Linked DNA regions of Homo sapiens: all the other regions are linked to region 2. Evidence: fine-mapped expression QTL. A gene starts in region 2. Each other region holds a variant in brackets. All regions are shown on one strand. Distances are from middle to middle. Region 1 overlaps GALNT7-DT (GALNT7 divergent transcript). Region 2 holds the start of GALNT7-DT (GALNT7 divergent transcript). Region 3 overlaps SAP30-DT (SAP30 divergent transcript).

Evidence for each region.
Region 1: its variant is fine-mapped to the expression of GALNT7-DT in whole blood (TOPMed, PIP above 0.99).
Region 3: its variant is fine-mapped to the expression of GALNT7-DT in whole blood (INTERVAL, PIP 0.96).

The regions. Positions count from the first base shown.
Region 1 is chr4:173,139,052-173,150,476 of GRCh38, reverse strand. All of the region lies in intron 6 of GALNT7-DT (GALNT7 divergent transcript), which reads left to right. It also overlaps the pseudogene RN7SL253P. Among named protein-coding and RNA genes, the nearest start is that of GALNT7, 24 kb to the left of the region's middle. The variant A/G (reference allele first, on the strand shown) is at 6,196.
Region 2 is chr4:173,163,620-173,173,351 of GRCh38, reverse strand. It overlaps GALNT7-DT (GALNT7 divergent transcript), which reads left to right and starts at 3,700. Exons shown (of 7, transcript NR_134242.1): 1 at 3,700-4,488; 2 at 5,239-5,390; 3 at 6,562-6,707; 4 at 7,053-7,228; 5 at 8,220-8,374; 6 at 8,999-9,059. GALNT7 (polypeptide N-acetylgalactosaminyltransferase 7) reads right to left here and starts at 4,541. Exons shown (of 12, transcript NM_017423.3): 1 at 4,391-4,541. The coding sequence starts at 4,516. RefSeq lists silencers at 3,163-4,392, 4,623-4,742, 4,813-4,862 and enhancers at 5,173-5,272, 7,351-7,430.
Region 3 is chr4:173,362,264-173,370,343 of GRCh38, reverse strand. SAP30-DT (SAP30 divergent transcript) reads left to right here. Exons shown (of 4, transcript NR_183973.1): 1 at 1-52; 2 at 734-910. Among named protein-coding and RNA genes, the nearest start is that of SAP30-DT, 4.4 kb to the left of the region's middle. RefSeq lists enhancers at 1-169, 2,635-2,704. The variant G/T (reference allele first, on the strand shown) is at 1,919.

The DNA.
Region 1 (11,425 bases), 24 kb after region 2:
CCTGGACTCGAACTCCTGACCTCAGGTGATCCACCTGCCTTGGCCTCCCAAAGTGCTGGGATTACAGGTGTGAGCCACTGCACCCAGCCCATTTCCTGCATTTTTATTGACACAATTTTAAATAAAATGCTTGAAATCCAACACATTTCTGTTTTCTTCTGAAATGTTCTAAATAGAACATTTATTTGTCTAATAAAGTTATAAGAGTCATGAACCATTTCTTGTTTGGAGAATTAGTCTTTTGGTAATCAGAAAAGGAACAGGTAGCAAATTGCATTCCAAAAATGAAACTTTTAATCAGAAGGAGACATTTTCAGTGTGATTAGGCAGTTTTCTGTCAGCACAGGTTAAAGAAAATCAACCAATAGACTAGATCCCAGAAAACTTTCTAAGAATGTCCATTGCTTTTTTCAAAAAACAGACTTCATTCATAGTATTAAAAGCATTTGTATAGCTTGCTTCTTAAATGCTATACACAATTTTTCATATATCAACATGGAAAGGTTTCCGCTTTTATTCAAAATATGCAAATGAGTCATAACTGTTACCATTCACATAAGATTTTATTGATAAATGTATTCAGTAAGTATTGAGTGACTAGTTGTATCAGACTGTGAGGATACAGAATCCTGCCCTTAGAGCACTTAGAGCTTGGAGAATCTGATGGCATAATGAATAGTTACAGAAGGTGTTTCTTTTTCTTAACCATTCTTCTCACTAATACTTTTAACAAAAAATTGAAGGTCATACTTTATTAGTATTTTCAAATACTCTCTTTGATTAGAATTGCCTAAAAACACTGCTTTTCTAGGTATCTTTAATTTGATGCTACAATGGCTCACATTATGAACTTATCAAGGAAGATTACTGCCATGATTCACTGTGGTGAATTTTTCTGTTTAAAAAAAAAAAGATGGAAGGAAGGAAAGGAAGGAAGGAAGGAAGGGAGGAAGGAAGGATTAACATAGCTACCTCTGAAGCTTTTTATGGTACATGTATAATAAAAGAAGGAAAATTTGGGAAGCAGCAATTTGGGAGCACAGAGATAAGGCAAAGTGAAATATAGGTAGAATTGTACAACAAATCAGAATTATTTTTAACCAAGTTTGGGAAAACAGAAGGTTAATAGTTAATGCAATCTAAATAAAATCCTATGACATAACCTAATGATTGAGAAGATCCTAAATTAGATACGTTATCAAGAGGAAATAGTGTATTTAAATTCCTTAATTGAGCCAGAAATAAAATTTCAGCCACCAATTGCCCATATAAAGCCTACCAAGTGACTAGAATTATGTCTCTTGCCTAGAAATAGGTCAATTAGATAAATGATTGCAAAGAAATAAGTGATGTCTGATTTCATAAGTCATTTAATGCTTAATAACCAAAGTAAATCAATCAAGGGTTAGGGAAAATAGCAGTTCTAATCTGTTGGTTTTGAGGCTTGAGACTTATTTTGCTTCTTTAATTTTTAAATCTCAGCATTAGAAATCAGAATTTTTCATTACATTTCTCTTTTCTTCAAATAGTCTCAAGTGACTGTTGAATTCATAGAATTACATATGTAAATTTTAAAGTGAAGATTTACTTGATAGGTTTTAAAAATGTCAATTGCACAGAGAAGGTGCTATGAATAAGAATTCACACCTGCCTAGGGCAAGTAGACAATTAAAAAAAAACTCTACATCATTTTAAATATACATTCTCATACTTTTGGATCAGAACATCAAAAGAGGAACTTTGCCATTTAGAGTTGCCATAAACTTGCATTTATTGAACACTCAGAATGTGAGCACAAGTGATTTTAATAATAGCACAACCTCTCTCAATAACTCACAGAAGCTCCAAACGAGTCCTTTCCCTTCATTCTGAGCCTATTGTCTACCACCAAGCTCAGAGCTTATTAGGTAGCTTTAAGATTCAGTGAAGTCTCTTATTTCTATAAATTTGAAGGATAACTGTTTCAAAGCATAAAATACAAGAAAAGTATACATTGAAGGACTAGTTATTGGGATTTAACATTCTCATCAGAGCCCACACTCATCCTCCAGGTAGACTAATGGGGCAATATATAGAGATACTGCATGTTCACCAAACTCCCATCTTTTTTTTTTTCTGGACACACAGCTTTAGTACATTTCCCAAATGCCCTTGGTGGGGTCCCGTCACTGAGTTCTAACTAATGGAAATGATGTGCAACACTTGCAGGCCTGGTCCCTAAAATTCATCTTGCATAGTCCACAAAGTTCTGTCATTTTTTTTTTTTTTTTTTTTGAGATGGAGTCTCACTCTGTCACCGAGGCTGCCGGGCAGTGGCACCGTGTCGGCTCACTGCAACCTCCATCTCCTGGGTTCAAGCAATTCTCCTGCCTCAGCCTCCCAAGTAGCTGGGATTACAGGCGCCCATCACCACGCCCAGCTAGTTTTTATATTTTTAGTACAGATAGGGTCTCACCATGTTGGCCAGGCTGGTCCTGACCTCAGGTGATCCACCCGCCTTGGCCTCCCAAAGTGCTGGGATTACAGGCATGAGTCACCATGCCCAGCCAAGTTCTGTCTTATCTGCCCATACTATGCACAGAATTCAGGGAAAGGCTGAGGTCTAGGGGGATGGGAAAGGCATGCTGAGGGCGTGTGCAGAATAGTTTTACCTCTCTTCCTCCCACTAAACTTGCATTGGACTGTGACTTGAGCAAGAAATTAACCTATTTTGCATTATACCCAGATGCTTTAGTTTTTATCATTGCAGTTAATACGTGATAAATGATACAGTTGGTAAAGGAAGATGGTGGGTAGGAGAATGAGAAAGCAGATATCTTCGCTTTATAGTTTGCCACTAATTCCATATAACTCCCTGTGGAGGTGAATATGGTAATAGTAATACCCTATGATAGAAGTGCCAGACATAAACAAAAAGTTACCAAACCAATATATCAGGGATCCAACGTGGTTGAGTACCTCGCTACCATCCATTTTTTTCTTCAAGCAAATTCTGTATATCTGTATCACATTTCCCCTGACATATTTCTCGACTGGCCCCTGGGATCCAATAGTTCATTTATTCCATTCACAACATTTTCCCCTTGATTATTGAGCATTATTATCCTGCATTCCATTTCCAAATTTAATAAATGATTTTTTTCAGAAATTGTTGATAACCACTTTTTTGAAATTAATGAATTTGGCAAAAAGAGGAGAACAGAATTGATTATTTGAGCATAAAACTGTTATAAAGGCCGGGTGCAGTGGCTCATGCCTGTAACCCCAGCACTTTGGGAGGCCGAGGCAGGCGGATCACTTGAGGTCAGGAGTTCGAGACCAGCCTGGCAACATGGTAAAACCCCATCTCTACTAAAAATACAAAAATTAGCCAGGCATGGTGGTGCATGCCTGTATCCCAGCTACTTGGGAGGCTGAGGCAGGAGAATCGCTTGAACCTGGGAGGTAGGGGTTGCAGTGAGCCGAGATCACACCACTGCACTCCAGCCTGGGCAACAGAGCAAGACTCCATCTCAAACAAACAAACAAAAAAAGCTGTTGCAAAGTTTTTTTTTTAAATTACACTTTTGTTATTGTTAAAAATTAAAATTTTCTTCTCTTTTTCTTCTACCAGATACTACGTTTTAATAATATAATAATCAAAACCAGTATAATGGTGATGCTGTAATAGCCAGATCAATGGACTGAAATAGCCCAGAAATGAGTTGGGCATGGTGGCTTATACCTGTAATCCCAGCACTTTGAGACCAAGGCAGATCACTTGAGACCAGGAGTTGGGCAACATAGTGAGATCACTTGATCACCTGAGCACATGGATTGCTCAAGGCCAGCCTGGGCAACATAGAGAGACCTTGTCTCTACAAAAGATTTAAAAAATTCACCAGATGGCCCGGTGCAGTGGCTCACGCCTGTAAGGCCAAGGGGGTGAATCACAAGGTCAGGAGTTTGAGACCAGCCTGGCCAACATGGTGAAATCCCATCTCTACTAAAAACACAAAAATTAGCTGGGCGCGGTGGTGCACGCCTGTAGTCCCAGGTACTTGGGAGGCTGAGGCAAGAGAATTGCTTGAATTAGGGAGGTGGAGGTTGCAGTGAGCCGAGATCGCACCATTGCACTCCAGCCTAGGTGACAGAGGGAGACTGTCTCAAAAAATTCACCAGGTGAGGTGGCACATTGTCTGTAGTGCCAGCTACTCAGGAGGCTGAGGTGGGAGGGTTACTTGAGCATGGGAGGTCAAGGCTATAGTGATCTGTGACTGCACCATTGCACTCCAGCCTGTGTGATAGAGTGAGACCCTATCTCAAAAAATAAAAATAAAGCCTGGGCACAGTGGCTCACGCCTGTAATCCTAGCATTTTGGGAGTCCAAGGTGGGTGGATTGCCTGAGCTCAGGAGTTCAAGACCAGCCTGGGCAACACGGTGAAACCCCTCTCTACTAAAATACAAAAAATTAGCCAGGTGTGGTTGTGTTCGCCTGTAATCCCAGCTGCTCGGGAGGCTGAGGCAGGGGAATTGCTTGAACCCAGAGGCGGAGGTTGCAGTGAGCCGAGATCGTGCCATTGCACTCCAGCCTGGGCGACAGAGTGAGACTCCGTCTCAAAAATAAATAAATAAATAAATAAAATAAAAATAAAGCCCAGAAACATACTCAAATATATAGAGACCATTCTTTAGTATACAGTATTTTTATATATATTTGAATGTGTTTCTGGACCTTCTGAGTGAACATTTCCTTCCCCCATATTGTGTTTTCTTCCCTTTTTTTTGTATTCTTCTTTTAAAAAATCATAGTGTGTTAGCAAAGCCCCAAAATGGATCCCAGTGATCTCCGCCTCCTGGTATTCACACCCTGTGTCTTGGTATCCACATGCTTGTGAAGTCCCTTCCCACTTTGTGCCAGGGTTGGTCTATGCGAGCAGTAGAACTGAGCAGAAGTGATGATATGTCATATGGTATGTTGTTAGGTCATCAAGACCATGGCTTCCATCGTAGGCAGTCACACTCTTTCTCTCTTGGATCATTTGCTGTGGGGAAGCAAACTGTCATATGAGAGGACACTCAAACAGCCTCTGGAGTCTCATTTGCTAAGGAACTGAGGACTCCAGCCTGAGAACTCAGGCAAGTAACTGAGGCCTGCCAACAACCATGGAGAAAGCCTGGAAGTGGATCCTCCCTCAGCCTTCAGTCGAGACAACAGCTGCAATGACAGCCAAGCCAGCGCCACCCAGCTTAGCCACCCCCAGAGAACTAACTCTCAGAAACCATGTAAGATAATACATGTTTGTTGTTTTAAGCTGCTAAGTTTTGGGGTAATTTATTATACAATAGATAATTAAAACACATAGCATATAAATAAAATCAATAAAACCAGTATGGGTCAGTAATGAGTAAATTAGATAATTAGACAAATTTTGACATTTCTGTTTCTATGTTAATTATTTTTCTTCAGAAAAATTCTCTACGGGTAAAATATGTTAAGAGTGGTTACCAACGGACATTTTAAAATTAATAATCAGTTTGGGAGGCCAAGGCGGTTGGATTGCTTTAACTCAGGAGTTTGAGGCCAACCTGGGCAACATGACAAAACCCTGTCTCTACAAAAAATACAAAAATTAGCCAGGCATGGTCGTGTGTGCCTGTAGTCCCAGCTACTTGGGAAGCTGAGGTGGGAGGATCAATTGAGCCTGGGAGGCCAGGCTGCAGTGAGTCAAAATCATACCATCTCAATCCAGCCTGAGCAACAGAGTGAGACCCTATCTAAAATATATACATGTATATTAACAATTATCTCTTGAAACTAAAGTATAATCACAGTACTAGTGTACTATTTTCCATTTTATTAAATGCACTAAACAGTATTGCAATGTGTTTGTGTTTATTAAAAAATATTTTGGAAATCTTTGGGAGAAAAGCTACTTCAAATTAGTCTGAAAACTATCATTTCCTTCTAGCAATGTGTAATAATGTAATGACTGCTTAGAATTTCCTGAGAGGGACTGTAACATATATTTTAAGCATAATATTGTAAACAAACAAGTTCTTTTGCAGTACTTGAAGATCTTTTTTTGTGACTATCCCCCTTATATATTATGAAGATACATTTTTTGTGACTATCCTCTTTATATGTATTGTGAAGATAAGGTTTTTTATAGTGAATATCCTCCTAATGCTACTAGTATTGTTTGCAATCTGTC[A/G]TTATTCTTAGTGTAAAATTAAACTTCAACAGAGTACCTGTGTGAACTCTTAACAATTTTTGAATTAGTGAAGCCCCAAATTAATGATGCTTTACTAGATATAAGGGAACTGGAAAGGCTGAAATCTCAAGGTAGAGTCAAGGCAGTAATTCCTAGCAGCCTGTGTTTCTCGGTGTTCTTCATGCTTCACAGAGGTTGGAATTCAGCTTCTGGTTTAAGTTGTCTTAATCTTGACCACAGTGGTAATTTTACTTTCCCACTCTTTTTTCCTCAACTAGAATGACTCGGAGAGTTGAGCTAACAGAGGTAGAATATTGATTCGTGAGATAGGTTCTTAGAGATATAAGTGTGCGCATGGAAGAAGGAGGAATGGCGTGGAAGAGCAGGTGGAGACGGCCACAGCAGGGCTTAGAAATTCCCTCTATCCAAAGCCTGGTTGTGAGGAATTTGATAGAAAGGATTGTGTGGGCTAAGACATCAGTTTTTATGGTAATATTTGAGGGAGAAAATTGAGATCTTGGAATGCATTTGAAAAAAAGATTAGTTTTAATACAATTATCACTTTACCTGAGACCACATCTCAAAATCAAAATCAGTGATAATGTCTTTGCATTAATGTTGGAAAGACTTATGCTACTTCTGCATAATTTTCTGGTAAATTATGTAATGAGTGGTCAGTATAATAGCATGGTTATTGTGAAGGGTAAGATAGTATGTCATTTTTTTCCCTCTTAACATGTAAAGGCTATTTTCCATATTATACATACATTAATATTTATATGTGAATGAACAAATAGAAATATCATCAAGTAAAACTGAAGGAGTTGATTTGGGTTATTTCTTGTGTGAAACGGATGAAAAGAAAAATATTAGAAAATTTGATTACGTTATGAAGTAAACAAAATACAGCTTAATGAATGTGAAAAGATAAACTAGAAATAGACATTTGTAATGCATATAACTGACAATGGATTACTATCTAGAATAGAAAGAATTCTCACAAATACATGTAACCCAGTAAAAAAAAAAATGGACAAAAGATATGAAAAGACATTTCGGAGAAGTAATACAAATGGCCATAAACCTTGGAAAAAGTGCTGAGCCACACAGTAATCAACGAGATGCAAATAAAAGACAATGATATAATAATTATGTCAACAAAAAACAAGGAAAAGTCTTTTTTTTGAGACAGATTCTCGCTCTGTCTCCCAGGCTGGAGTGCAGTGGCGTGACTTCGGCTTACTGCAACCTCTGCCTCCCAGGTTCAAGCAATTCTCCTGCCTCAGCCTCCCGAGTAATTGGGATTACAGGCGCCCGCCACCATGCCCAGCTAATTTTTGTATTTTTAGTAGAGACGGGGTTTCACGATGTTGGCCAGGCTGGTCTTGAACTCCCAACCTCAGGCAGTCCACCCATCTTGGCCTCCCAAAGTGCTGAGATTACAGACGTGAGCCACCGCGCCCAGCCTAGAAAACTCTTATAACACTAAGTGTTATTGAGGATATTAAGCAAGGGGAACTGTCATTACTGACAGAGGTGGAAGCTAGTACATTCCCTTTGTAGAGAAATTTTGCATTGCCTAGTAAAGTAGTATATATGCATAACCCGTGACACAATAATTTCACATTTAGGTGTACTGTATCTTGCACAAATTGAATAGGAGACATGTTGAAGAATGTTAATAGGGCTTTTTTTTTTTTTTTTTTTTTTTTAAGACAGAGTCTTGCTCTGTCACCCAGGCTGGAGTGCAGTGGCATGATCTCAGCTCACTACAACCTATACCTCCCAGGTTCAAGTGATTCTCATATCTCAGCCTCCTGAGTAGCTGGGATTACAAACCCGTGCCAACACACCTGGCTAATTTTTGTATTTTCAGTAGAGACAGGATTTTGCCATGTTGGCCAGGCTGATCTCAAAGCCCTGGCCTCAAGTGATCTGCCTGCCTCAGCTTCCCAAGAATTTTTTTTAGAGACAAGGCTCACTATATTGTCCAGTGAATTAGTCTGTTCTCACGCTGCTAGTAAAGACATACGTGGGACTGGGTAATTTTAAAGGAAAGAGGTTTAATTGACTCAGAGTTCAGCATGGTTAGGGAGGCCTCAGGAAACTTACAATCATGGCAGAAGGGGAAGCAAACACAGCCTTCTTCACATTGCAGCAGCAAGGAGAAGTGCTGAGCAAATAAGGAGAAAGCTTCTTATAAAACCATCAGATCTGGTGAGAACTCACTATCATGAGAACAGCATGAAGGTAACCTCCACCGTGATTCAGTTACCTCCCATGGGGTCCCTCCATGACACATGGGGATTGTGGGAACCACAATTTAAAATGAGATTTGGGTGGGGACACAGCCAAACCATATCACCCAGGCTGGAGTGCAGTGGCTGTTCACAGGCGTGATCCCAGTACGGATCAGCACGGAAGTTTTGACGTGCTCTGTTTCCGACCTGGGCTGGTTCACTCCGCCTTAGGCAACCTGGTGGTCCTCCACTCCCTGGAGGTCACCATACTGATGCTGAACTTGGTGCAAACACCTGATTGGCATAGCGCACTACAGTGCAGAACTCCTGGGCTTAAGAGATCTTCCTGCCTCAGCCTCCCAGTAGCTGGGACTACAGGCATGCACCACAGCATGTGGCAGCATTCTTCTTTATTTTGTTACAACCAGTCTTAACTGGTAGATAGGGTGTTATGCTTAATAGCAGAAAGTTAGAAGCACTCATCAACAGGAGGATGGATATATAATCTGTTGTATAATCATACACTGGAAGGTATTAAGTAACAAATATTATTCCACTACAATCACATATGTCAACACAGATGGCTCACAAACCTAAGGCAAAACAAAAGAAATGTATCACAGTAATACACAAAATATAGTTGTGCTGGTATATCATTAATTGGTATATCAAAACATGGTTGTATTTGTATATCAATTTTGTATATTAATAGATACATAAAAGCAGGCAAAATTAAGCGATATGTTGTTTAGAGATACCTTTTTTATATATAATACAAATGGTAAAATCCTAAGGAAAGCAAAAGAATGCTTAATACAAGTTTCAGCATAGTGGTTAGCTCTAGAAGAAGAAAGGCAGCTCTGACTGGTGAGGGGCCGCCAGGGGCTTCTAAGTTTCTCATAATATTCCCTGTCTTAAGTTGAAGCAAGGTAGAAAAGCAAGGTTGTTCGTGTTATTGTTATTCTTTAAGTTGTGCATATATATACTCTAAACCCTTTGCATGTGTGATGTATCTCATGACAAAATATTTTAGAAATGTGTATGGAGTCTACACGTTGGGAAGTTGGCCTGGATACAATTTGCAAAATGAAGACAATTGTTATATCTATTAAATCATTGATTTCCCCCTTAAATATTTCTTGAACTTGCCCCCACTTTCCTTTTGTATTTGTTCTTTGCCCCATGTCCTTATTATTTCTAATCTGGGGTATTACTGTCACTGTCTAACTGGTCTTACCCCTTGGATTCATCTTCCTCACAGTCACCAAAATATAAATCTATTCATGCCCCTACCCTCACTATTTAGAACAAAAGTTAATAGTCAGGCTTTCCCTAGAGTTGTGCTCTCTGCTATCAGTAGCCTCCAGAGGTATTTATTATACACAGGTACTACCTTGATACCATATTACTCATAATTAAAATATTTAAAAGACTATAATAAAGATATAATAATTATTTTACATTATTTATTCAAGAACAAAAACATGTTTGCTCTTAAATATATTATTAATAAGAATTTTTAATTCTTGTTAAAATTAAAGGAAGAGCAATGTGATTTAATAAGCTTCGTGATTTTTGAAGTTTTGGTGCAATCTTAGTAATGCAAAGCATCAGAGATGTGGCTGCAGTATCAATTTTTGATTCTCAGTTTTAATGGCTGTCATAGCTGCATTTTTCTCATTAATGTTTTCCTTATATCCTGAATTTTCTCAATTATTGTTCTCTTTTTTTGCACTGTAGTATTTTTGTGAGTTGTATCAAAATGGATGGGCTAGGTAATAAATAATCTGAACAAACCATTAGATTCAGTTTATGCTCCCAAGAAATAAGTGTTTATAACTCAGGCCTTCCAAAAAATAAACATTTTATAATAAACAATGGATAATTTATGGAGACTTTACTGCAATAATAAATGCAAAGATGAGTAAATCTTCTTCAACAAGTTCAGTTCTAGAATATCTCAGGGACATAACACCAAACCTATCAGTAAGAGAGAATATTTACTGGTCATATACATATTCAGTTTGTCAGATTATCTTGTTAATTTTTTATCAAGTTCTGTCTTATATTGCATTTGCTAAGTTGGAAGAATAACAAAACCTTGGCCATACCTGAATTTCCTGTAAACCGTCTCAGAATGCAAAGGAGGTCAAGGGACTAGCTTTTGTTCTTAACAATTCAATATTGTTACATGATGCAGAAGTTACAAAGCTTTCATCAACAATTACTGACTACTTTCATTGTCATCCTCATGTGGGAGTTCTGAAAGACTGTTTGAGATGCATTCAAGTAACAGATGAGAGTGCGCAGTGCAGCCTTCTGTATTAAACAAAGAATAAGAGAAAAATATTCACTTCTATCCAATGTGTGAGCAATAGAGCATCAACAAACAAAACAGGCACTAGCCACAAAGCCTGTAGGAATTCAGGAAAGGAAGATCAAAGCCACACTCTTTAGAGGTGAACAGTATTAAAAAAATACAATTTTATTTGCAACAGAATTTTTATAAAATAAAGACATGCCCAAACAGACTATTAGCCAGATACTTCTTTCAAACTGAGTTCCAGACAGTGTTTCACTTTATAAGGACTCCAGTAGTACCATATCCAACACTAAAGCAGAACAGTTCACAAAAATATTCTGCCAGTGTCACCATTCAGGCCAACCAAAACCACCCACAGTTGATAAATTCCTAAATCCTAATTTATTAAAAAACCATAAATGCCCCCACATCATTCCAGATTTATTTATACCTCTCAGAGACCTAAGTCAGTACTTTACATCAATATTACTCTATTCCAAAAGGATAAAATGATTTACTTCTTTGACATTAAAAAAGTGAAATATCTAATTAGAGAATACATACACTCCAGATTTATGATGGCAACTGACAGATAATATAAGAACTTCCTAAATTTAATGCACTATTAAAATTGCACCAATAGTCATATTAGAATAATTGTCAAAGTAAGATTCAGAAGACCCTAAAG
Region 2 (9,732 bases):
ATAATTTATTTAATTAAAGGAACTTTCTGTGCTTTGCAAGTCCAAGCAGATAATCTTAATAAATGCTGACCTTAAAATATCCAGAGGGCAAAGACTAAAAAAAAAAAAGCTTCCCATAATCATAAAATACAATACAAGAAGGTATACATTTTGCTTTGAGAACTTTCCATAATGAAACAAATAATCTATCATCCTAGGCCTCCTGACACCTTCACTACCATATCCAATAGCCAAATCCTGATGCCTTTGCATCTTTAGGAGCTCTTGAATCAATTTATTTTTTTCTATCTCTACCACCGCCCTGCCAATCTAAGCAAGGATTATGTCCCACCTGAATAATGATGACCCCCACCAGGACTCCTGCTACCTGTTCTATAGACAAATACATACTTTCTGTAGGCAGCCAGAGTGATCTTTTCAAAACACAAATCCACTCTTCCCTACTTAAAATCTTTCAACGGCTTCTCACCGCACTTAAGATCTCCTCCTTAGCATGGACTACGAGACCCATGCTTTCCTGTGTGGCATCATTCTACTTGTCATTCTCCACGTTCCAACAATATTTATCTCCTAGTTTCTCACTATTTCACTCATGCTACCTCCTGCCTCAGGACCTTTGCCCAAATGCTCCTTCTCAAGAATGCTGCCACCCACTTCCAGATTAACTACTTTTCTTGAAATGTTCAGATTTCGCCTCAAAAGTCAGAGTAGGCAGCTAGGCAGACATGAGCAGGGCAGGAAAGGCCCCCCACCACCAGGAATGTCAGGCGGCCATCAGGTGATGGTCAGGCCGTTGTTAAACTGTCTCTCTGAAATAATAATTGGTCGCGCCAACACCATGGAAAGGCAGTCTCCCATTAGATAGAAAACACCTAAAGCTGGTTATCAGCAGGTTCCCACTAAGATCTCAGGAGTTGGGCAAGTGGGCTCCAGCATGTGCACTAATAGGCAAAATGGCAGCTTTTAACTAGTATATGCCCTTCCTCTAGGAAGGCTCAAATTGTAAGGGAAAAATGCCTCAAGTGAGCATGAGTAAAACTTCAGTAAACACACTGCAGGCAGCCCCTCCCCGCTGCTGGCAGGCCACTGCGCATGCAGACAGCCCACCCCAAGGGAAGAATCACGGGAGAAGAAACGCAAACCCTGGAATCATGCCAATGTATAAAACCCCAAGTCCAGGGTCAGACGAGGTACTTGGATTTCTCAAGTAGCCCACATGGCCTTCTTCAAAGTGTACTTCCTTCCGTTCCTGCTCTAAAGCTTTTTAATACTCTCACTCCTGCTCAAAAATTTGCCTCGGTCTCTCACTCTGCCTTATGCCCCTCCAATAAATTCTTTCCCACAGGAGGTAAGAATCGAGTTGCTTCAGACCTGTGTGGATTTGCTACTGCTAATAGTCATTTCTTCAAGTAAGGCTTTTATGACCAAATTCCTCCATTTTCTTGCCCCCTATGGTTTTCACTATGAAAGCAGTAGCACAATTTTTATTTATATATTTATCGAGGTTTGATTGCTGTGTGGTTTTTACAAGATCCATGAGATTAAGGACAAGGAGTATTTCCTTAACAACTAGTACCATGCCTGGTATATAATTGGCACTCAAAAATGTTCAAATAAATCAATATTTAAAATCACACAACAGAATATGATCGGAAATGTAAGGTCATTTTTCACATCATTCACTTCAGAGAAAGGGCAAGAGGCCCAGAGATGGGAAGGAAATAAGAAACATGTTTCTTTTGTCTTGACTCCACAGGTGGACAGACCTAAAACAAGGAAATAGTGCAGATGAGAAAGGACCATCCCAAGTTGTCAAGGCTGTAACAGAATTTAGTGTATGACATATTCATAGTTCAAGACAAAAAGTGGCACAGGGTGAATGGAGCCACAGGTACAAGCTTGCTGGAGTAGAGGCAGAACCCATACCTGGTAAACTGGATCGTTCAGGCTATTTAAAGGGATCCAAAAAAGTCCATGTGTAGATCAGCATTAAAGAGAAGCAGAGATCTCACCATGGGTGGAATATATGCAATAGTCATCGAAGTAAAAGAACCACAAGGGGGAGGAGAAACTCAGGAGTCAGAATCCTCCCTACAGGATTTGTCCTTCTAGCACTGTACCTTAAAAGCTCCTAGGTTAGTCTTTATTAAAGGAAGGCAATAATCCCTTATTTATGCTCTTATTATTTATAAGCTACACTTTAAATTGCTTGTATTACTATTTACCTGGGAAGCCAATAAAAGGGTCTTTCTTGCTCTTCTGATACCTAAGCATTCCTCTTAATGTTAATTATGTTAAGTCTTTAAAATCTACCTTTTGTTTTTGACAAATGACAGAAATTACACTGGATCCACTGAGAAACTTTATCAAGTACACTGAAACAAACAAAAAATCAAGATATCATCACCTTCTTTATCATCACCATATAGTACTGAAATGGGCATTATGGCCCATCCTTTGTTTGCACTAATAAAATATTCCACGAGTTGGCAAGTGATGCTGATGTTCCGCCACCTCTTTAAAAGATCATCAGAAGGGCGGGACATTCTGAACCTAGCTAGTTTTGTCAGTTTTTCGTCAGTTTCTCTACCAGAAAATAGGGGGTTAAACATTTCTAGCTACATGTAAAAAGCCATTTGATGACTTAAAACAAATATCCTCAATTGCAATATTCAGTTATCCTTTGTCAATAAGTCATATTGAGAGCAAAATTATAAAAAGATCACCATCACTCCATGAGCTGAGAAGCTTAAAACCGCAAATGTACTGAAAAGGAAAACTGATACTTTTTATTACCATCAATTTAGATGACTTAGATGGGAATCTATCCCAGATATTACAAAGGGATTCCACTGCTGTAGAGACTTCAAATACTAAAACTTCCAGATTACATCTAATCTCATGATATAGGCGAAGAGCTGATAATGGGATCTCCTCCTAGGATTCTTACTCTTGAAAGGACGCCACAAGCCTTTTTGCCCAACTTCTTGATGCTAACTTTCCAGAAGGAAAGTTAAATAAACATGACATAGAAGCGATGCTCATCACACTTGCAAAAAGCACTTTACAACAGAGAGAGCGACTCGACTCCTCCTGCAGCCCCGCCGCCTCGGCGGTCGTGAGCCCCTCATACCCTCTCCTACCCCCACTGGCAGCCGGCCCAGTTGGCTGTCCCAGCGGGGAGGAGGAAGCAGGTGGTGCAACGGTTCATCCGGGGGGAAGCAGGTCAGGGTCGGGGGCGAGGCCGGTGCGCGCCGCCCGCTGCCGGGTCAGGGAAGCCGCAGTGCCCGCGGTCCCTTCCCCGCGCGGCGCGGCTCCGGGTAACTAATGTTCCGAGGCGCCTGACTAAACCCTCCAAATCCAAGGAATGTCAGCGCTAACACTCGCGCCCTGGGCGGCAGACAAATGCGTCCCAGCGGAGCCGCCGCGAGCTCCGCGCCGCCGCTCCCCTCGGCGTCGGCCTGAGCTAGCCGGCAGCCGGCGCGGGGCGGCCGGGCGCCGACACAAGTTAGTTTTCCGGCCCAAGCAGCCCTGCCGCAGCCAAGGAAGAGGAACTGCTCCTCTTCCCCCGGATAGCGCCCGAGCACTGCCACAGCAGGGGCTTCCCCAGGCGCTGAGGGCTGGGGGCGGCGGGCAGGCGGGGCGGGGACGCCCCTCCGCCATCTCCGGCCAACCGCCCCTCCCTCGCCCAGGGACGCGAGGGGGACCGGCGGTCCGGGCGAGGCCTCGGCCGCGCATCGCACCCCGGCTCCCCGCCGCCGGAGTTGAGGGGGAGGCGCGCTCTCCGTAAGAGCCGGAGGCGGGGCGCCATCGCCCTCCCACTCCCCGGCGGGCGGGCCGGGGGAGCCCGGGGCTGCGAACACCCCCAGACGGGCGGCTGCGGGAGGGGAGGCTGGACCAAGGGGCCTGGTCCACCGGACCAGCGGTGGCGGCATCGGCATCTCGCCTCCTTCAGGCCTGCACGCGCCACAGGCCGCAGCCTGGACCAACCCCGCGTCCCCGGGCCGTGAGCGCTGCGGTCCCGGCCCCCCAGAGCGGGACGCCGGGCGGCCGCAGCCCCCCGGACCCGGCTCTCCGCCCGCTCCGCCCGCAGTCCCGGCGCGGAGAGCGGCCGCCCGAGCCGCTGCCGCGGCAGCGCGGGTGTCGGCGACGGAGCCCGGGGCGGGGAAGAGCGGAGGAAGGGGCGGCGAGGGGGCGGGCCGGCGGCGGCCAGGGAGGTCGGAGTGCGCGGGGCTCGGCACCCCCTCGGCCCGCGCTGCGCCAGCACCACCTGCGGAGCTGCGGTGCCCACGCCGTGCCGCGACCCCGCCGCCCCTGCTCCCTCCACACGCGGGCAAACAAAACAAGTTGCCGGTCGCTGCCGCCGGAGGGGGCCGGGCGGGTCACTCACCCTCATCCTGCTCAGCGGGCTTGGGTCGTCCGGCCGCGGGGTCAGGGAAGACCAGAGGACCACTAGCCCCAGGAAGCTTCCCACCACCAGCAAACTGCGTAAGATGAACCCAATCTTCAGCCTCATCTTCCTCCGGCGGCGAGAGACTCACAGCCCGGCGCAGCCGCCGCCACCGCTCTCCCCTCCCTCCTTCCCCCTCCTCCGGCTCTCCTCCCCCTCTTTCCCCCACCCCTACCGCTACGGCTGCCGCCCTCTCCGCTGCCTGCCCTTTCCAGCTCCAGATCCGGAACTCCCCTCGGCTACACCTTTCCCCGGGCTCTTCCCTCCGCTCCTCCCCGTGGCCCCCTCCCCTCTGGCGGCCACCGCAGAGCTCCGACTGACCCGTGTGCCTCGCTCTGCCAGGCTGCCTTCCTCTCTACCTGCCCCCTTCCAGATCCGCAGTCCCCTGCTCTCCACGCGAGCCCCCTTCACAGTCCCTGCTACCTTGTAACTAACTTGCACTTTTCCCGAGTCCGGTTCTTAGCCTTTGCCCTGCAGCTCAGCTCCTTAAAGCTTTCAGATCCCCAAACTTTTATTGTAATTATGGACAATAACTCCGTCCTTAACGCCTGTGCCCTCCGGGATCCCGTGGCCCGCCGCCCCCTCCGTTGGACCTGGAGTCGCTCTCGTCTGCACCTCTCCCTTAGACCCACTTCCCTGAGCCCCTTGTCGAGAGGCTTTCAGGAAGCCAACCAGGAAGTGGGACTACCGCTGCTGCTGCAGCAGCTCCACGTGGCTGATTTATAGCTGAAGGGTTTTTTTTTTTCCTTCTTATTGATTGTTCTTGCTTTTTCACACGGCTCCTTAAGGTGGTGAATTTGTAACCGAAAGGCCCAGGTGAGATGTGCAAATATCACTGGATTGGAGGAGCTCACTTGGAAAGCCAGTATTCCTCCTGAGCTAATGAAAAGAAAGGCTGTCGTCTTATGCCAAAAGCAATACCAACCTTGTTCACGGGCTGGTAAGTTTCAAATCCAAGGACCACGGATTTCAACTCCACCCTCATTGCGTCCCTCAGATCTGATATTTGCCACTTGATTTCTGCTTTTCAAACGCCTTTTCTGCCTGTGTTACCTAAATTACACAGTAAAGGATATTGGCAAGTGTTTAGCCAAATGCCCCACCCTGAGGAAATAATTTTTCTGCCCATATCTCCCAATAAAGATGTCTATGCCTTTATAGCAGAATGTATGTAATTACATTATCAGTGTACTATATCCTAAACTGCTAATTTAAATTTAAGTCGAACAAAACGTTTTAAGATTTTATCCTAAGTTTTTTGGGGTTTTTTTTCTTTTCTTTTTTTTTTTTTTTTTTTTTTTTTTTTTTTTTTTTTTTTGAGACGGAGTCTCTCACTCTGTCACCCAGGCTGGAGTAGAGTGCAGTGGTGCGATCTTGGCTCACCTCAACCTCCACCTCTCGGGTTCAAGCAATTCTCCTGCCTCAGCCTCCCCCGTAGCTGGGACTACAAGTGCACACCGCCACGCCCAGCTAATTTTTTTTTTTTTTGTATTTTAGTAGAGACGAGGTTTCACGGTGTTGCCCAGGCTGGTCTCGAACTCCTGAGCTCAGGCAATCTGCCTCGTACTCCCAAAGTGCTAGGATTACAGCTGTGAGCCACCACACCTAGGCTATCCTAAGTTTTAAGATGGTAACAGCTGATTCTTTTTTCTCGTACTGTCTCACATCTGCAAGTTTTTTGCTTTAAAACAAAGCTCAGTTATGTAAAGTTTTACAGTGAAACAATTTCAATTATCAAGATAGATAAAGAATTATACCAAACTACCTTCATGTGCTTTTTGGCTTGGCTTACAATAGCTAGTATATCAGGGAGTTCTGTAGATGCCATAATTTCAAAATTTCCACAAAATATCTGAAGTGATATCCTCATGAACAGCATGGTTCCGGAAATGTAGAATGGATTGTAGTTAGGTGTATTATTGGTTGGCTGAAGGACTGTACATCATATTGTATAAAAGTCCACTATATAGAGTACCTGGAAGAGGGACTGTCAAGTGTTAAACACAAATCACTGCTTGACTTAGCATTTATATCAGCCCCTTAGGTTAAAACCAGTTGTTTTAAGTAGAAGATGAGAGATTTTGCCTAAGACCATTTTTTTTGTGTGACAGAGATCTAGAGTGTGTAATTCACGAAGTATGAATCTGCTGGGTAATGTGATATGAAAAGCGAATGCACCATTTCTTGGTGATGATTCAGGTCAGCGTTGGGACCCAGGAATCTCCTGTTAATCAGTACCCTGGTGATTTTGATCCAGGTAATCTGGGCACCACCTTTGGAGAAACACTGAAAGGAAGCAAGGTTGCGGGGGGTGGTTGGGAAAAGTCTTATATGGATATCTTTGGAAGACAGAAATAGGCTCATTTATGGACTCAACTTGAACTGTTCAGAAGTGAGGTGGACTCCTTTTCTTTTTTATTTATTTTTTTTTTGAGTTGAGGTCTTGCTCTGTCACCCAGGCTGGAGTGCAGTGGCACATCCATAGCTCACTGCAGCCTGGAACTCCTGGGCTCAAGTGATCTTCCCACCTCAACCTCCCGAGTAGCTAGGACCACATGTGTGAGTCATCATGCCCAGCTAATTTTTTTTTTATTTTTTGTAGAGACGGGGTCTATTATCTGGTCCTGTTGTCAAGGCTGGTCTCAAACTCCTGGCCTCCAGCGATCCTCCCTTTTTGGCCTCCCAAGATGCTGGTATTACAGGCATGAGCCACCATGGTCCACCCGGACTCCTTTTCATAGGAGACAGTTCCCTAGGCAGAGACTGGGCTTGAAACAGGTAACTTACAAGGCATCCTGTGATCATAAGAGAATAATTCCATTTGAAATCAGCAGCTGAAGTCCACCTGAATAATTAAGTCTTTCACTTGTGTTATTTTCACAGGGGAGACAGTTTTTTATTCTTAAGAAGGTAGGAAGCTTTATTTTTACTGTTATGAGCATAGCTGGGCAAGTATGCAAATGGAAAGTGATACCTATCATCAAAGTATTGAGGATGGTCCTTTGAAGGCCCTAGTATTCTGAGAACATCCTGCCACCACTACCACCCCCCAACTTTAGTTTTACACAGAGAACTTAAAATATGTGTGAAAGAGTATATAGTTATACAGTTGTATATTGATGAATAGGTATATAGTTGTAAAAGTTTATGTTTCTCTGAGTCTTAATAACTTTTAAAAGAAACTGCAAGTAAACTAACACAGGAACAGAAAACGAAATATTGCATGTTCTCACTTATAAGTGGGAGCTAAATGATGAGAACACATGGACACATAGAGGGGAACAACACACACTGGGGCCTATTGGAGGGTGGAGGGTGGGAGGAGGGAGAGGATCAGGAAAAATAACTAATGTGGGTACTAGGCTTAATACCTGGGTGATGAAATAATCTGTACAAACCCCCATAACACAAGTTTACCTATGTACCAAACCTGCACATGTACCCCTGAACTTAAAAGTTTAAAAAAAGTGCAAATATACCTTAAAACATATGCCCATTGCAGTATTTGCTGGGAGGCAGCCTTTGTAGGGTTGACAGAACTCGTTTAGAAAATGAGGAGCTACATTCAAAGCTTCAGTCAAGATAAATCACGTACCTCTCTGAACCTAGGGCTTTTATCTGCCAAATAGTGATTACAATACTCAACCTTATGATGTTCTCAAAAGGAATAATTGAGATCAAGTACATATACAAATATAAAGTACAATTAGTGTAATGGAACAAGTCTCAGGTGCGTGTGGCTATAATTCTTGTTTTATGAATGCTGCAGTTCCTCTAAAGAAGAGGGTAGAGACTAGAACTGAATGAGATGGACATAGAGATGGCCAAGAAAAGCATCGTCCTCTGCCAAGTCATGGGGTCATGTGTGGTGGATGGTGACATGGTGTCCTCAGCTCAGAGTCCAGCTGGGGGCTCAGAAGCAAGGTAACTGAAGGGAGAGAATTATTTGAGCACCTAGTGTGTGTAAGATGCTTCACATTTATTATTTCACCTAACCTCTACACAACCTGTTGTGGGTATTACTGGTCTCAAGCTGGGATTCAAAGCAGGTTTTTCCAACCTCAGAATTCTTGCCAGACTGATTAGCCTTCTGCATCTGGAACATAAATGTTTTCAGGCAGCATAATGTGCAAGAGGTCAGAGCCTAAAGCTTTGTTATTTTTTAATTTCTCCACCATGTCAACTCTGTTACAGGGAAGCCCAGCAGAGGGAATTGTATCCATTTTGGGGCTACACTACCCCAATGCTATGCTGCAGCCAAGCTGAACTTCTAAGTTTCTAAATGTAACTCACTTACCTTCAGGCCTTTGTACGGGGAGTTCTTTTTGCCTGAAATACCTTCTGACATCTTAACATTACGCTTAGATGTCAGTTACAAAAAAGCTTTTTCTAGACTCTCTCACATGTCCCACTCCACACCCCTATATCTCTTCCCACCAATGTACTAGGGTAGGTATCCTGCTAGGTACTTCCACTGCACCCTCTACTTTTCTTCCCTAATGATTACCACTATATTGTAATTGCTTAATTTCTTTTTCCTATACCCAGATAAAAATGTGTATGAAGGTGGAGCCTTGTCTATCTAGTTCGTTATTGTTATCCGTGTCTGGTATGTGGAAAGGGCTCAGTGAGTATTTCTTGATGGAATGCTGAATGAATAATGGGATTGAAAATATAAAAGGCAGACAAAACTTAGAAGAGGGGCCAGGTTTACTTCAATTGCTATTCCTCCTCACTGGGAGGTTTTTCTTCCAAGGACAAAACTTTGGAGGTTTTATTAAATTAGAAAAGTGATTATTTTACATATGGTCATCATCATCAATTGATAGGCTGTTGTTTCCCCCTTACTCAGCATCCTACTAAGGCTGCTTAGAACTAAGAAGAAAGGGTAATTTTAATTTAAGTTCATATTTTTGTATGTACGGAGATTTAAAAAAAACAGCTACATTAAAATGGGAATATGTAGCCATAGGGAATTATTTGCAAACAAATTTCAGTATTATCTATGTGTGGTTGCCAAGAACTCAGGTTAAATTAGAGTCAGTGACCTCTAAATGACTAAATATCCTATCACCTATTCTATAAGCCATTTAATCACCTCTTTTCAAAGAAGAAGAGCACAATTGGTAGTATCTTTAAAGGAAGATACATTTTATTGTTTAGAAAATAACTACTATTTAGATATCAAGGGAAGCATAGTGTAAGTTTGTTAAGAATTTATTAATTTTGTGTACTGTTCATTAGTTACCTCTTACTGCTTAACAAATGACTCCAAAGTTTAG
Region 3 (8,080 bases), 200 kb before region 2:
TAGGGCACCTCCTGGGAGGAAAACGCCCATCCTGACTTCTCAACTGTGACAGGTCCCCCTCACAAACGCCTTGCGGGGGGGTGGGGGGGCGTTTCTAAACACTTGCATGTTCTTACAAGGGAAATGTTTTTATTCTTGGGCGCACCAAGTTGGCCGCCTCCTGAGGTGGAGTACGGACCAGTTGACAACAGGGCTCCTTTTCACCTCCACGCCCAACCTTTTCCATTTCTCCTCAAACGGTTTTGGAGAAGGGCGGAGTCATATCATTTTAAAGGAAACTTGGAACCTCACCAATACAAACGCTGGTCGAATGTTCCCAGAAACTTCCCTGCATTAGCTCTACCGGGCGCGGGGAGCAGAAAGCGCATTTCCTGAGTCCTGAAAAGCGCGTGCGCGCCTGTGTGCTGCCGGCGTTTGGGCGCGCCTGCTTGTATGTATGTGTTCGCGGGCGCGCGCGTGTGTACGTGTGTGTGCGCGCGTACGCGTGTATGTTCCTGCGCGCTTGCGGGGACGTGCTTGTGGAGGGCGGAGAGAGGGATGGGCGTGGCTAATATGAAAGCTGCATCTTTACTAGTTAGCTACCATGCGTCATTATTTATCAAAAGATATATGCTGCTTAAACACAAATACGTTTTAAAATATATTTTAGGCAGTAGGGTTTTGGGTTTTTTTTTTGCAAGTTCTTTTGGTGAGTAAATTTAGTGATAAATGATTTTTTTTTCTTTTGAGACAGTTTGCTCTGTCGCCCAGGATGGAGTGCAGTGCAGTGGCGCGATCCTGCAACCTCCGCCTCTCGAGTTCAAGCGATTCTCCTGCCTCAGCCTCCCGAGTAGCTGGGATTACAGACGCGCGCCACCCCACCCAGATGATCTTTTTAAATGCAAAATGCCATCGACGCAGAAAATCAAAGGTATCCATTGTATCTGTGCGTTTGAGTTCTAGGATATGACAAAGAAAAACAATTTAAATATTACGTAAATTCAGTAGGAAAAAGAAAGATGATGACTGATAAGTACATTGTGTACCTCCTTAAGCTGTGCTGTCCAGTAGGCTGTCCTCTAGCCATATGTGGCTACTCAGCACTTGAAATGTGGTTGAGACGGAAAAACTGAATCGTTAATTGAATTTGAATTAAACAAAAACCAAAAACCTGATGCTCGATTCAATTGTTGGAATACTTTTAAGTGTGTTTGCAACAACTCAGATATATGAATCTGTTTTTCCAACTTAAATTTTATGAACTCTAACTTTAGCATATGAATTGAGATGTGCTGTAAGTATATATCAGCTGGACTTTTTTTTTATTTCTGGACTTACTACAAGAAATTTTCAAAAAGAATATTGAAGTGCACATTAAAAATTTTTATATATGTTTAAATGTTTTGGATGTAATGGGTTAAACAAAATATTACAATAAATTGTACCTGTTGCATTAGATAACACTGGCTTAAAGTATTACAACACAGTAGGGCGTGGTGGCTCACGCCTGTAATCCCAGCACTTTGGGAGGCCGAGGAGGGTGGATCATCTGAAGTCAGGAGTTCGAGACCAGCCTGGCCAACATGGTGAAACTCCGTCTCTATTAAAAATACAAAAATTAGGCAGGCATGGTGACACAAGCCTGGGGTTCCAGCTACTTGGGAGGCTGAGGGAGGAGAATTGCTTGAACCCAGGAGGCAGAGGTTGCAGTGACCTGAGATTGCACCACTGCACTCCAGCCTGAGCAACAGAGCGAGACCCTGTCTCAAAAAAAAAAAAAAATTACAACACAGAATAATTATATATTTATGGATACATGTTATATATTTATGGATACATTTTCTTAAGTGGTAAAAATGAGAATATATGGATGGGATGATACATCCCAACTTCAGGGTGATGCTCATCTCCAACGAAGGAGGCCAAGGAATTTGTATAT[G/T]GTGTCAGAGTAAACATAAAATATAAAGAGATGAATTTCTAAATTTAATGGTTTTTTGGGGAAGCAAGAATTGCAGTTCAGGACATACACACAGACTGAGTGGTCTTTAGTATGTCAGAAGAACAAAGAGAAGGTCGAGAGTTTTATTAGAAAGAGAAATGTTGCTACTGTTTTGAAAGAAGGTTCATTGGCACTATAGTAAAGTTTTGGGAAGCTGGCAAGCTCTGATTGGTGAGTGAGAGTGGTAGATAAAACCAGTCTTAGTCATAGGAGATTGTTTCAGCAACTACTCGGTAAAACTGGTCTTAGAGTTACTGCAGGCCGTTTCAGCAGCTGGGTTGTAAAAAACTTAATTCTTAATGCTAGAGCTGTGTGCCCTGATTGCTTTCTCCCCTGGTCCCTCGATTCTGATTTAGTTGGGTATGACAAGAATGATCCAGATTGTATGATCAATTTTCACACTGGGAATGGCTTAAAGATGGTTTCTTCTGAATTTTAAAGTTTTTATTTATTAAAAATATCTGAAACATGACAGTGGGATGTTGAATTTTCATATTTTTCTTTGTACATTTATGTGTTTTTAAAATAGTTCATGAAATTCATATTGTTTGGTTCTTGTGCTTAAAAAAGCTTATATCTTCTGCAAAATGTGACCAAATCATGTAAATTCAGTAGGAAAAAGAAAGATGCTTACTGATAAGTACTTTGTGAATCTCCTTAAGCTGTGCATGTATGTATATGTATAGTTATCAGTTTCATATGAAGCTTACTCAAGTAAAGAACTGTAGCTATGGCTCCTTTACACACAATACAATGGTTGTAAAAAGATCCTATTAAACAGTCACTTGTTGCATGCTAGAATCTTTTTCTAGGCCCTGGAGGCACAAAAATAATTGAGAGGGTCCTAGCTATTTGGGAGCTTCTTGTCTAGTAGGGCAGACAGGTAGCTTAACAAGCACATAATACAAACCTCAATAACAATAGAGAGAAAGTACAGGCATAGCACATAGGAGGAAATGATTCATTTCTGGCAAGTTGAAAAGATTGCTGGAGTAGGGGACATGTTAATTCTCACTGCCAGATTTAAAGTGTATCTTGAGTGAATCTATTTGTTTAGATACATTTTTACAACCATGTTTTGTTACTTATTTCTACAAATCTTCATATTTAGGGCAGGTATAAGAACTCTTTGATTTGAGTGTAACTCACAGTCAAGGTTGGAATCAGGTTTTAGGGGGGCTTCAAGATTATATAATCTGAAAGGTCTTTTTAAAGAAGTATGTAAAATTATGAATGCAAAATTAAAATTAGGTACAGGACTTCATAAGGGTCTATCCAAGTGAGGGACTCTGAAGTTTGAATCCTTTAGCTTCACAGTAAATCTACCTCAGAGTAGACTAGGTAAAAAATATAGATCTATGAAACCTTAATTATAGGGGGGTTGTTCATATCAACAAAAATGCTCTTTGCTTTCTAAAATGGTTCAAAATATGATTCTTAAAAAAGTATGTATCCGTGCCTGTCTTCCCTATAGGCTTTTAACATGATTGCATTTTTCTGGCTTTACTTTAAAATAAGCAACTAAATAATTTTATTTAATTTACAAAAACATATAAATTGGCCAATAATCCCAACATGACCACAGTAGAAAATTCAAATAATACAAAAAGGTTCATATGAAAAACAAAAGCCTGTTTTACCTCATCTCCTCAAATCCCTGTCCCTTGAAGCAACCAGTGTTAACAGATTATTGTTTCCTTCTAGAAAAAAGTATGCATTTACTAGTATATACATCTCTATATGTGAATAATTCTATATTTTACAGCAAAAGTTCATTCCGTTTTACACCACCTTTCCTTTATCTAGTTTTAAACTCAGCCATCATACAGAAAATTGTATAAAGCATGAATGTCCAGTTTAAGCAGTGCTGTGGTTTCAGTGTTTGTGTGTGTCCCCTCCCAAATTCATTGTGAAACTCAATCCCCAATGCAACAGTACTAAGAGGTGGGGCTTTTAGGAGGTGGTGAGGCCACCCTCATGAATGTGATTAGCGCCTTATGAAAGGGATAGAGGGGGCGAGTTTACCCCTTCCATCTCTTCCACCATGTGAGGATGCAGCAAGAGGCACCATCTTGGAAGCACAGAGCAGCCTCCACCAGACACCAAGATCAAATCTTGATCTTGAACTTCTCAGCCTCCAGAACCTTGAGAAAATAAATTTCTGGTTTTTATAAATTACTGAGTCTCAACTATTTTGTTATGGCGGCACAAATGAACGGAGACAAGCAGTTATGGTAAAATGCACATCCGTATAACTGCTACCCAGGTCAGGAAAGAGAACATTGCTGAAAGGGCCAGCTTCAGGGACTTGCAGTGGCACAGGACCCCAAGCTCAGAAGCCAACATGCTCCACTCTCCTCCTCCTTCCTGCTTGACATTTAATGCCCTGCAATCACCATCATGTAATTCTCAATAATTTTATCTTTGAATTTGTGTTTTATCAGTGAAGTATCAATGGGACAATGCATTGATTCAGGCAACATGGGCCTCCTGCCACCTCCCTTCCTCCCCAGAATGAGTTCTGGCTGCTCACTCTCTCCACTCCACCCCACCCCACCCTCTGCTCTGGCAGAGGCTGAGCAGGAGGTACGGTGCAGGAAGTGTCTGGCTGAGGTGCAGGATCCTCCCCATTTCCTCTGAACCAGGAGTCAGGCCCCTAGCTCCTTTGGGTCAGTTTTCCACCTGTGCCCAAGGGAGTGCCACATTAAATAGCAAATAAGAAAACACCATGTGAGGAGAAAGAGAGGGAGGGAGAGAAAAAAGATGTTTGTTCTGGACACCACAAATTATGTAGATGGCCCTGATTGACAACATGCCAGAAAGCCATCACCTGCCACTTCTTCATCATAAATCCCATCTCCCAGCTAGCAGGAGTAGCTATCTTGACTTTTATGGTATTTGTTACCTCGTTTTTCATTACAGTTTTGCCACATAGTTCTTCAACTTTTTTTTTCAGTTTTGCTGTTTTTGAACTTTATATAAGTGGACTCATATACTTTATATTCTGTTTTCTTTGGGTTCATTTACTCTGTTTTTCAAAGGTCTACTTTTATGTAGTTTAATTCTTTCTCTTCATTATGGTATGAATAAACTACAATATATCCATTCTATTGTTGATAGACATATGGATTGTTTCCCGTTTAGGGCTATTAAAAGAATGTTGCCATGAACATTCTTATTCTTGTACATGTATCCTGATACATACGTGACTGCAGGTCAGTAAGATATATATGTTGTTAAGTTGGAGTGAGAACTTCCAGCTCCTTGCTTACATATGTAAACAGAATTGCTGAGTTTTAAGGTAGGCGTAGATTCAACTTTACTAGATATTTCCAAACTTTTACACTTCCTTAAGCAATATATGAGAGTTCTGTATCTTTGCCTACCATTTGATATTGTACTTTCTAAAAAAGATCAAGTAGGTATGTATGGTATCTAATTGTGATTTTAATTTGAACATTCTTAGTTACTAATGAGATTATATATTAATTGGTCTTTTGGATTTCTCGTTTGGAAGTTCCTAGTTAGGTCTTTTGCCTATTTTTCTATTGGGATTGTGTCTTTTTCTGTTGATTTGTAGTAGTTATTCATGTTTTCTGAATAACAGCCTTTTCACAATTTTACATATTGCACACATCTTTGCCTACTTCATAATTTGCCTTTTGACTCTGCAGTGGCAACTTTTGTTTAAAGTCTTTTAATGAGGAAAAAATATATCTATCTTTTCTTTTCTGACTGATGATTTTTGTGACTTAAGTAAGTTCCTTATCCCCAAATCATGAAGATATTTTTCTACATTATCTTCTAACAGCTTCATTGTATTGCCTTTCTCATTTAAGATTATGATTGATTTTTGTGCACAGTGGTTGAGGTACAATTTTATTTTGTATATGCTACCCATTTGACCAAGTACCATTCACTGGAAAATCTATCCATATTCCATTCTTTTACAGTGTCACCTTTGTCATAAATCAAGTTGTATGTATGTAGGTCTGTTTCTGAAGCCTAGTCTTTCCATTGTACTTTGCCAATTCCACAGTCTTAATTATAAAAGTCGTTCAGAAAAATTTTGATAACCTAGAAGTATAGATCTTCTACCTTATTTTTTTTTCGTCAAAACACAGACTTGGTTATTCTTGACCCTTTGTATTTCCTTATACATTTTAGAATCAGCTTAAGTTCCAGAAAAAAGAAAAACCAACCAAATGAACAATAAGACAACAACAACAACAACAAAAAAGGCCTTTTGGGATTTTGGATGATATTGCATCAAATCCATACATTAACCTGAGAGACGAGCGACTTCTTCAACATTGAGCCTTCCAATCATGATTTTCAATTCATTTAGGTCTTCTGTAATGTTTCTTAATATAATTGTATTTGTTGCTATGCAGAAGTTTCACTGATCTTTTATTATATCTCTATATATATTTGATATTTCTGACACTATTGTAAATAGTATCTTTTTAATATTTCATTTTCCTTTTTTGTTGCTTAAATATATATAAAATAAGCTAATTTTCCAAACTAATTTTTATATCCAGCAACCCTGCTAAAATTTCTTATCCAATAAAAATATAAATGTATTTGTGTTTGGGTTTCAATGCATTCAATCATACCATTTTCAAATCGTTGAGTTTTCCTTCATTTTTTATTCCCTTTTTTCTTGTGCTACTACAGGTTCAGGACTCTAGAACAACATTATAAAAGAGGTGTTAGCAGGCAAAAATGTCTCATTTCCAGTTTCAAAAGAAAGGCTTTTCATGTTTCGCTATTATGTATCATGTCTGATACAGATTTTTTTGTTTTTCATCTAAATTTTTATACCATTTATATGTTCATAACAACCTCATGTTTTTAAGGTGTGCAAGATCTGACCCAGTGTCCCTATCTTCATCATCAATTATTAGTGCCTTCTCTCTTTTGTTAATCAGTCTCACCAGTGTTCTATCAATTTTATTAGGCTTTTCAGAGGACCTGAATTTTGTACATAGTTTTTATTGTATTTTTTTCTATTTCAATTATTCTATTTTCTTTATTATTTCTTTCTACTTTCTATTTTGCTGTTCTTTTACTAACTTCTTTACAAATATGTACATTAAAAGCTACAGATTTCTCCATCAATATTGTTTTAACTGCATCACACAAGTCTTGATATGTATTATTACCATTGAATTTAAAACATCATCTAATTTTCCTATCATTTTTTTGATGCATAGATTTAGAAGTATGTTTCTTTTTTTTTCTTTTTTCTTTTTTTTTTTTTTGAAATAGAGTCTCACTCTGTTGCCCAGGCAAGAGTGCAGTGGCTCTATCACTACTCATGACAGCGTCAACCTCCCCAGGCTCAGGTGATTCTCCCACCTCAGCCTCCCAAATAGCTGGGACTACAAGTGCAGACTACCATGCTCAGCTAATTTGTTTTTTGTGTGTTTTTTATAGAGACAAGGTTTCTCCATGTTGCTCGGGCTGGTCTCCAACTCCTGGACCCAAGCCATCTGCCAGCCTCCCAAAGTGTTGGCATTACAGGTGTGAACCATGGCACCCAGCCTAGAAGTAGGTTTCTTATTTCCAAACATATGCAAATAATGTGATTATCCTTTTCTTATTGATTTCGAACACATATAAATTGTCACTTTAGAACTCTGTATGATTTAAATCCTTTAAAATTTATTGAGGGTTTCTTTTAACTTATCTTCCAGTCACTCATTATCTCTTTAGGTGTCCCTAACCTGCTCTAAAATTCACCCGTAGTCTTTGTACTTTTAGTTATTACATTTTTTAGTTTTATAATTCCTATCTGGTTCTTTTTAAAACCTTGAATGTCACTTTTTTATGATTTCTAGTTCCTGGACAAAATTTATATGCTTGACTTTTTCTTTCATGAACATAGTAAGCATAGTAGTTTTTAGACTTTGTTATTAAGTCTGTTTCTTTTGTCTATTGTTTCTCCTGGTGGCTGTCTCATGCTTACTCTTCCTGCATCCATTAATTTTGATTGTTTGCAGTTCATTTAATTGGAAAAACTGATTTAATATAAACAATTTGAAGCACTGGATGATGTAATGTTCCTATAGAGAGGCGCTTCTTTTCCTTCCATTG